Linked DNA regions of Homo sapiens. The protein of the gene in region 2 interacts with the protein of the main gene of each other region in a pairwise test. Each region holds a gene or a part of one and is shown on either strand. Other genes may lie near its edges.

What was found.
Region 1: the proteins of ATXN3 (region 2) and EDRF1 interact in binary tests that used the Homo sapiens proteins (3 or more experiments, as listed by UniProt).

What each region holds. Positions count from the first base shown.
Region 1 is NC_000010.11:125,726,208-125,729,708, forward strand, and holds part of EDRF1 (erythroid differentiation-related factor 1), read left to right. Parts: intron 1-2,795; coding exon 2,796-2,897; intron 2,898-3,150; coding exon 3,151-3,272; intron 3,273-3,501. UniProt on the Homo sapiens protein: Transcription factor involved in erythroid differentiation. Involved in transcriptional activation of the globin gene.
Region 2 is NC_000014.9:92,086,083-92,089,582, forward strand, and holds part of ATXN3 (ataxin-3 reference isoform), read right to left. Parts: intron 2,736-3,500; coding exon 2,648-2,735; intron 1-2,647. UniProt on the Homo sapiens protein: Deubiquitinating enzyme involved in protein homeostasis maintenance, transcription, cytoskeleton regulation, myogenesis and degradation of misfolded chaperone substrates.

The DNA.
Region 1 (3,501 bases), on a different chromosome or scaffold from region 2:
ATCTGTCAATATTTGATAGACATTTCCTACCAAATATTGAGACTCAGAGACCCATTTGTAATTTAAGTTCTAACCTTTTTACCATAACTTTCAGTCAGATTGTTAGACCTAAAATATCCCTTTAAGGTTTTCCAGATAAAATTCCTGAAACTTAGTCCACATTCATGTTATAAAAGTTTTAGAAAAGAGAATGAACTAGGTTGTCCATTTTATCTCTTACATCCTTGTTTCTTCCTAATGCTTGTTTATTTTTGTACTTACTGTATCTATCAAAGAATAAAATAAAGCCATAGATGTAAATTGTGACATGTCTATTTTCAGGAAAATAGATTGATAAATAGATAATAAGATCTGTGACTTGATAAGTTACGTCTTCCCTCTTGCTGTTGTGTTCCCACATATTGAGCACTATTCAACCAGATTGTTTCAATCTTCACAAATTACAGGGAGCAGATACATTTAACTCGATTTTAGTTTCAGTAGGTTTAAGATAGAGAAAGCATCCCATAAAACTCCATAATGAATTTAAATTTCTTTCAAAAGTGAGAAAAATGTAAGGAAAAGGAAGTAATTAATATGCAAGTCACATAGTGGTAACAACCAAGAAGTAGGGATGTTCTATGATTCAGAAGGGAGAAAAGACTACATAATACAAATACTACCCTCCTATTACCCATGTCACCCATCTCCCAGTGTTGTTCTGTCTTTACCTTGTTTAGGAATTACTGTGAAAACTCTTGGAGAGTCGGGAATCTGTAGACTTGCGTGTTGAGGAAGCAAGCTGGCATTTACTGAATAGCTCTTATGCCATGTGTATGTTTGTACAAGGTTTTTTTTTTCATTCTTGGAGCTGCGTATTGTACAAATAAGTAAACTAACGCTCATCAAAAGATGTTTCACATGGTCATACAGCTGGCGAAACTCTCAGGCTAGGGCTTAAACCCAGATCTTTCTGCCTGCAGAGGCCTGTTCCTCCAGCAGTACTCCACTGTGTCCGTGTACTCCACACACAGCAAGGCCCTACTAACAGTCAGATCATCGTAGTAGTGGTGTATCCCTAGGCACAGCTAGCCTGCCTTAAGAGTCTCTTACAGAGTACTTTTCTTATATTGCTTAAATTTCAGCTTTAGAGATTTGTTTATATTTGCAAGCTATCTCTGCACAAATTCTTGTTCCAAAAACTAAAACTGCTGGCTTGAGGCCTTTGTTAAGCAGTTATAGAGGTTAAATAGGTGACTGTGGGATGGTCCTAGAGCCAGACATTTATTGAGAACGTTGTAACCTAGAGCTCATACTCTGACTAAAGCAACTGCCTGGCAAACTGTTTTGAGAATCGGTTCATGAGTTGATAACTTGTCTGTGTAAACAAATAATAAAATAAAAAAGAGTTTAAAGTTCTCTTAGGACTCCTGAGGGAGAGGACAAGGCACAATAGAAGTGCTAGAGAGCCACCTGTGCTTATAGTCACACACTCTTCCCAAGCAGGTGCCAAGCCTACTGGCACACACAGATGACAAGTAAGACAGATGTTTGTGGAATAAGCAACACACGCATGCCTGTCTTGGGTTCTGTTGAGGCAATGACATTAAAAGCTTAAAGTAGTATTTCTTAATGGCAGTACTACTTTCCTAATGATTGGAAAATTGAGTGGTAGGCTGAGTTTACCCAGTGTCAAGAGGGCCCAAGTGTATTCCAAAATGCATTCCAGGCTGGGCGCAGTGGCTTATGCCTGTAATCCCAGCACTTTGGGAGGCCGAGGTGGGTGGATCACTTGAGGCCCGGAGTTAGAGACCAGCCTGGCCAACATGGCGAAACCCCATCTCTATTTAAAAAAAGAAAAAAAAATTAGCCGGGCATGGTGGCACGTGCCTGTAATCCCAGCTACTCGGGAGGCTGAGGTAGGAGAATTGCTTGAACCCAGGAGGCGGAGGTTGCAGTGAGCTGAGATCATGTCACTGCACTCTGGCCTGGGCAACTCTGTCTCAAAAAAAAAAAAAAAAGTATTCCAGAGAATATCTTAAGAACAAAAAGTGTTCTGAGATTAAATACATTTGGGAAACATTGGTTTTTACAAAGATAAAGTAGATTTTTCTATTGCAGGATTACTTATTATATATTTATTGTTTTAATATCAATAAATATTGTTACTCCACAAAAGTGAGTACCTGGTAAACGTCATCTTTCAAACCTGACTCTGGAAAATTTTCATTCAGTTTCCCAGGAACTAGTGTTCTGTGAAACACTCATCAGGAAATGCTAAACTGGAGACTGTTAAGATAATGAGTATCTCAAACTGTGGCTGAGTAAGATTTCTTAGGGTTTCTTTTTTTTAAGAGACAGACTCTCATTATGTTGTCCAGGCTGGATTCGAACTCCTGGGCTCAAGCAGTTCTCCCCTGTCGACCTCCCACATAGCTTGGACTACAAGCACATGCCATCGTGCCTGGCCAGTTTCTTAGGAATTTTTAAATTCAATATAGATAGAGTAGGCTGAAAGAGCAGTGGTAATCAGATGCACCAAAAAAGAGAAAAATGAAAAACTTAGAAAGTTTAGAATAATCTTTAATCTATCTCTCTTGAGTAAGATCTAAATGTGATTCGCTTCTTATAGTAGCTATGATCATTAGCCAAAGCAAGCCACCCAATGAGGCGTGTTATTATTTGTATTGGCCTAATAATTCACAATGGTAGATTTGAAGTGTGTGCTTTGAATATTTAGGTGATACTCTCAAAAGTGGGTCAATTTTAAGAAATGTTGACAGCAGAATCACTCCTTATCCTTGCACTTTTCACAGGGAAGTGAGCCTCTTGAACCCTCATACATAGTGGGGCATGTGGCCTCAGCCCCCAAAGAACAAAACCTGATTACTTTATTCAATGACGGGGAGCACAGTCAGGTATGCTTTCCATGGTGTCCAAGGTGACAGCAAATCCCCAGTCTACTTTGTCATTTCAAAACTAGCCTAAGTCGAAATTGATAGGGAAAAACTCCACTTGATCCTGAAACTGCTTTCTAAGCATCTTTGTGATCTTAGCTCTGGGGCCTGACTTTGTCTTCTTTGTCTCTTCCTTTTTCTAGTCTTTTTATGGATCATGGGGGGAAATTACAGATTGACTGTTTATTATAATCCTCCCTATTTTAAATCACAGGGTCTTAAAAATGATTTTGTTCGGAATATTCTATGGACATTTGAAGATATCCATATGTTGGTCGGCTCCAACATGCCCATATTTGGAGGAGGCAGATACCCAGCAGTCAGCTTACGTCTCAGGTGAACTAACATCATACCCCTCCTCAAGCTTATGGTATTTAAATTCTTCCTTTAGAATCAGTGTTCCATCAGACTGAGGTTGCAGTGAGCCAAGATCATGCTACCGCACTCCAGCCTAGGCGAAAGAGCAAGACTCGTCTCAAAAAAGAATCAGTGTTCCATCTATTTGGGCATCTTCCTCTTTCTCTAGGTTTTTTCCCCTCCCTCCTTCCCCTGCCAGTTGAAATGG
Region 2 (3,500 bases):
CCAGCACTCAAATTGTGATCTCCAAATACCATTACTAAAAGATGGCTAGGCAAGGTGACTCACGCCTGTAATCCCAGCACTTTGGGAGGCTGAGGCAGGTGGATCACTCGAGGCCAGGAATTCGAGACCAACCTGGCCAATATGGTGAAACCCTGTCTCTACTAAAAATACAAAAAAAAAAAAAAAAAATTTAGCCGGGGCCAGGCGCAGTGGCTCATGCCTGTAATCCCAGCACTTTAGGGGGCCGAGGTGGGCGGCTCACCTGAGGTCAGGAGTTGGAGACCAGCCTAACAAACATGGAGAAACCCCTTCCATCTCTACTAAAATACAAAATTAGCCAGGCATGGTGGCACATGCCTGTAAATCCAGCTACTCGGGAGGCTGAGGCAAGAAAATCGCTTGAACCCAGGAGGCAGAAGTTACGGTGAGCCGAGATCACGCCATTGCACTCCAGCCGGAGCAACAAGAGGGAAACTCCATCTCAAAAAAAAAAAAAAAAAATTAGCCGGTCATGGTGGTGCACGCCTGTAATCCCAGCTACTCGGGAGGTTGAGGCAGGAGAATCGCTTGAACCCAGGAGGCAGAGTTCAAGAAAAGGAGAAGGCACACTAGAGACAATCCTAAGGAAAAAATAAAAATGGGGAGGCAGCTGGAGTTTCATGGAATTAAGAGAGGATTTTTATTTTTAATCAATGGAAATAAAAAGCTTATTTTACTGCTTATAGGAATATTACAAAAAAAGGGGGGGGGAACTGATTATATAAGAGAGTGGAGAGATGAAAGCAGGAACATCTTGAGTAGGTGAGAAGAGCTGGGATCCAGCCCACAAGTGAGGGACTGGTTTTGGTTAGAGGTAGGGGACCATTCATCTATTTAAATAGGCTCAAAGCACAGGTGAAGATATAAGCAAATTGATAAATTTGCTGGTAGAAAGAACATAATTTTAATTGCTTCTATGTTCTCAGCAGAATGTAACGGAAAGCCACAAGGAAGGTGTGTAAGGGAGAGGAAAGTGCTTAAAGGTTTAAAGACATAAGCTGTGAAATTAGTCACCTTGGAGGGTGGCACATTATTTTTTATAAACTTCTTGGAGAGTGGTACATAATTTTTTATAAACACCTTGGAGGGTGGTACATCACTAAGAAAACATAGTAGAAATATCAGACAGCACTAAAGGCTCATCTGAATTTTGTGATTATAATAAATTTAAAGTAAAACCTTAGCTAGGTGTGGTAGCACAAGCCTGTAGTCCCAGCTACTCAACAGGCTAAGGCAAGAGAATCACTTGAGCCCAGGAGTTTGGAGCTGCAATGAGCTGTGATTATGCTGCTGCACTCCAGCCTGGGCTTCAGAAATAGGCCTAGTCACTTTGATAGATGGATGGGTGAATGGATGGATAGATCATTTAAGAAAAAAGTAAAACCAATCATCATGTTTTATGTTATTTTTTAGCCACGTCCAGCTACTCTGGTACAGGAATGGACAAGGCCAAGATGTGGTTTAACCAGGGTTGAGATTTTTGTCATTCAAGTATGATGGAGGGAGAGAGGGGAAACACGTTGAAGAATGCAATGGAGTGATTATGATGACGGATTACAGAAAATAAGCAGTAGAAGAAAGGAAGAATGCGTATAAAGGAAATGCTTGGGCCCCACAGTAGGGTTTAAAGAATGGCTGGAATAAAAAAACAGACAAAACATGGTTTAAAGATAGGAGGTGGTAGTTAAAGAGTAATATGCTTGCAATTGAGATTTGACAGTGGTTATGATTACTGGTAATAGCTAAGCAAGAGTAAGTGATTTTGAAACTAAGAGGCAGGTACTGGATTGATTGACGATACAGAAATAATTAAGAATGATAAAAGTAGTTGAAGTAGAGAAAAAGACAACGAGTCAGATCCTAAAATCACTGATGAAAAGAGACTTGTGGATGAGTGCAAAAGGACAAGGGATAGTTTAATCTAGGGGCATGTATTTCTTTTTTTTTTCTTTTCTTTTTTTTTTTGAGACGGAGTCTCGCTCTGTCGCCCAGGCTGGAGGGCAGTGGCGCGATCTCAGCTCACTGCAAGCTCCGCCTCCTGGGTTCACGCCATTCTCCTGCCTCAGCCTCCCGAGTAGCTCGGACTACAGGCGTCCGCCACCACACCCCGGCTAATTTTTTGTTATTTTTAGTAGAGACAGGATTTCACCGTGTTAGCCAGGATGGTCTCGATCTCCTGACATCGTGATCCGCCTGCCTCAGCCTCCCAAAGTGCTGGGATTACAGGCGTGAGCCACCGTGCCCAGCCGTTAGGGGCATGTATTTCAAAGAAACTGGAGTTTATAAGGAAGAACAGTGGCCTAGAAGAGGCAAAGAAGAAAAACATCTATCCCTCCTCTCAGCCGTGTGATATGTGATGTATAAAAGAAAAAGCCATTACTTAGAAGGGCTGCAAAGAAAGCAGCATCCTCAGAAGAGGAAGGGCCAGGTGTCAGTGAGAACTCTAACTGAACAGCGTCACCCAAATCACAGCCTATCACCACGTCAAAACTAAAGATTGTTTCACTGCCACTGCCAGAAAAACAGTTTTATCACACTGTCATCTAATGTGCCTGGTTATTTAACTACTTCGAAAGGTAACATTACAAAATGTTCAGCCGTTACTTACCTTCCTGTTGTAATTGAGCCAAGAAAAGTGCAAGATATGTATCTGATATTAATTCTGGACCCGTCAAGAGAGAATTCAAGTTAAACCACTGGAAAAAAATTGTCAATATTTAAGTTAGTGTATATTATAGGTAATAAGGAAGTTTCACATGTTAAGAATAGATACAACCCATCAAAGCTTAGTAAGATTGTTTAAACTCTGGAAATATTTCAAGTTGAGCTCTTTTCTTTGACTGAATAATATGATCTTAAAAACTACAAGAGAATACTGCAGATTTATCACTATTAAATACTTTTTTTTTTTTTTGAGAAGAGTCTCACTCTGTAACCCAGGCTGGAGTGCAGTGGCATGATCTCGGATCACTGCAACCTCTGCCTCCCAGGTTCAAGTGATTCTCCTGCCTCAGCCTCCCAAGTAGCTGGGACTACAGGTCTGCACCACCACACCCAGCTAATTTTTGTATTTTTAGTTAGAGACAGCACATTTGCCACATTGGCCAGGCTGGTCTCAAACTCCTGACCTCAAATGATCCGCCCGCCTCAGCCTCCCAAAGTTCTGGGATTACAAACATGAGCCACTGCACCTGGCCTCTGCTAAATACTCTTTTTTTTTTTTTTTTTTTTTTTTTAGACAGAGTATTGCTCTGTCGCCCAGGCTGGAGTGCAGTGGCGCGATCTCGGCTCACTGCAAGCTCCGCCTCCCGGGTTCATGCCATCCTCCTGCCTCAGCCTCCCGAGTAGCTGGGACTACAGGCGCACGCCGCCACACCCAGCTATTTTTTTGTATTTTTAGTAGAGACAGGGTTTCACCATGTTAGCCAGGATGGTCTTGATCTCTTGACCTTGTGATCCGC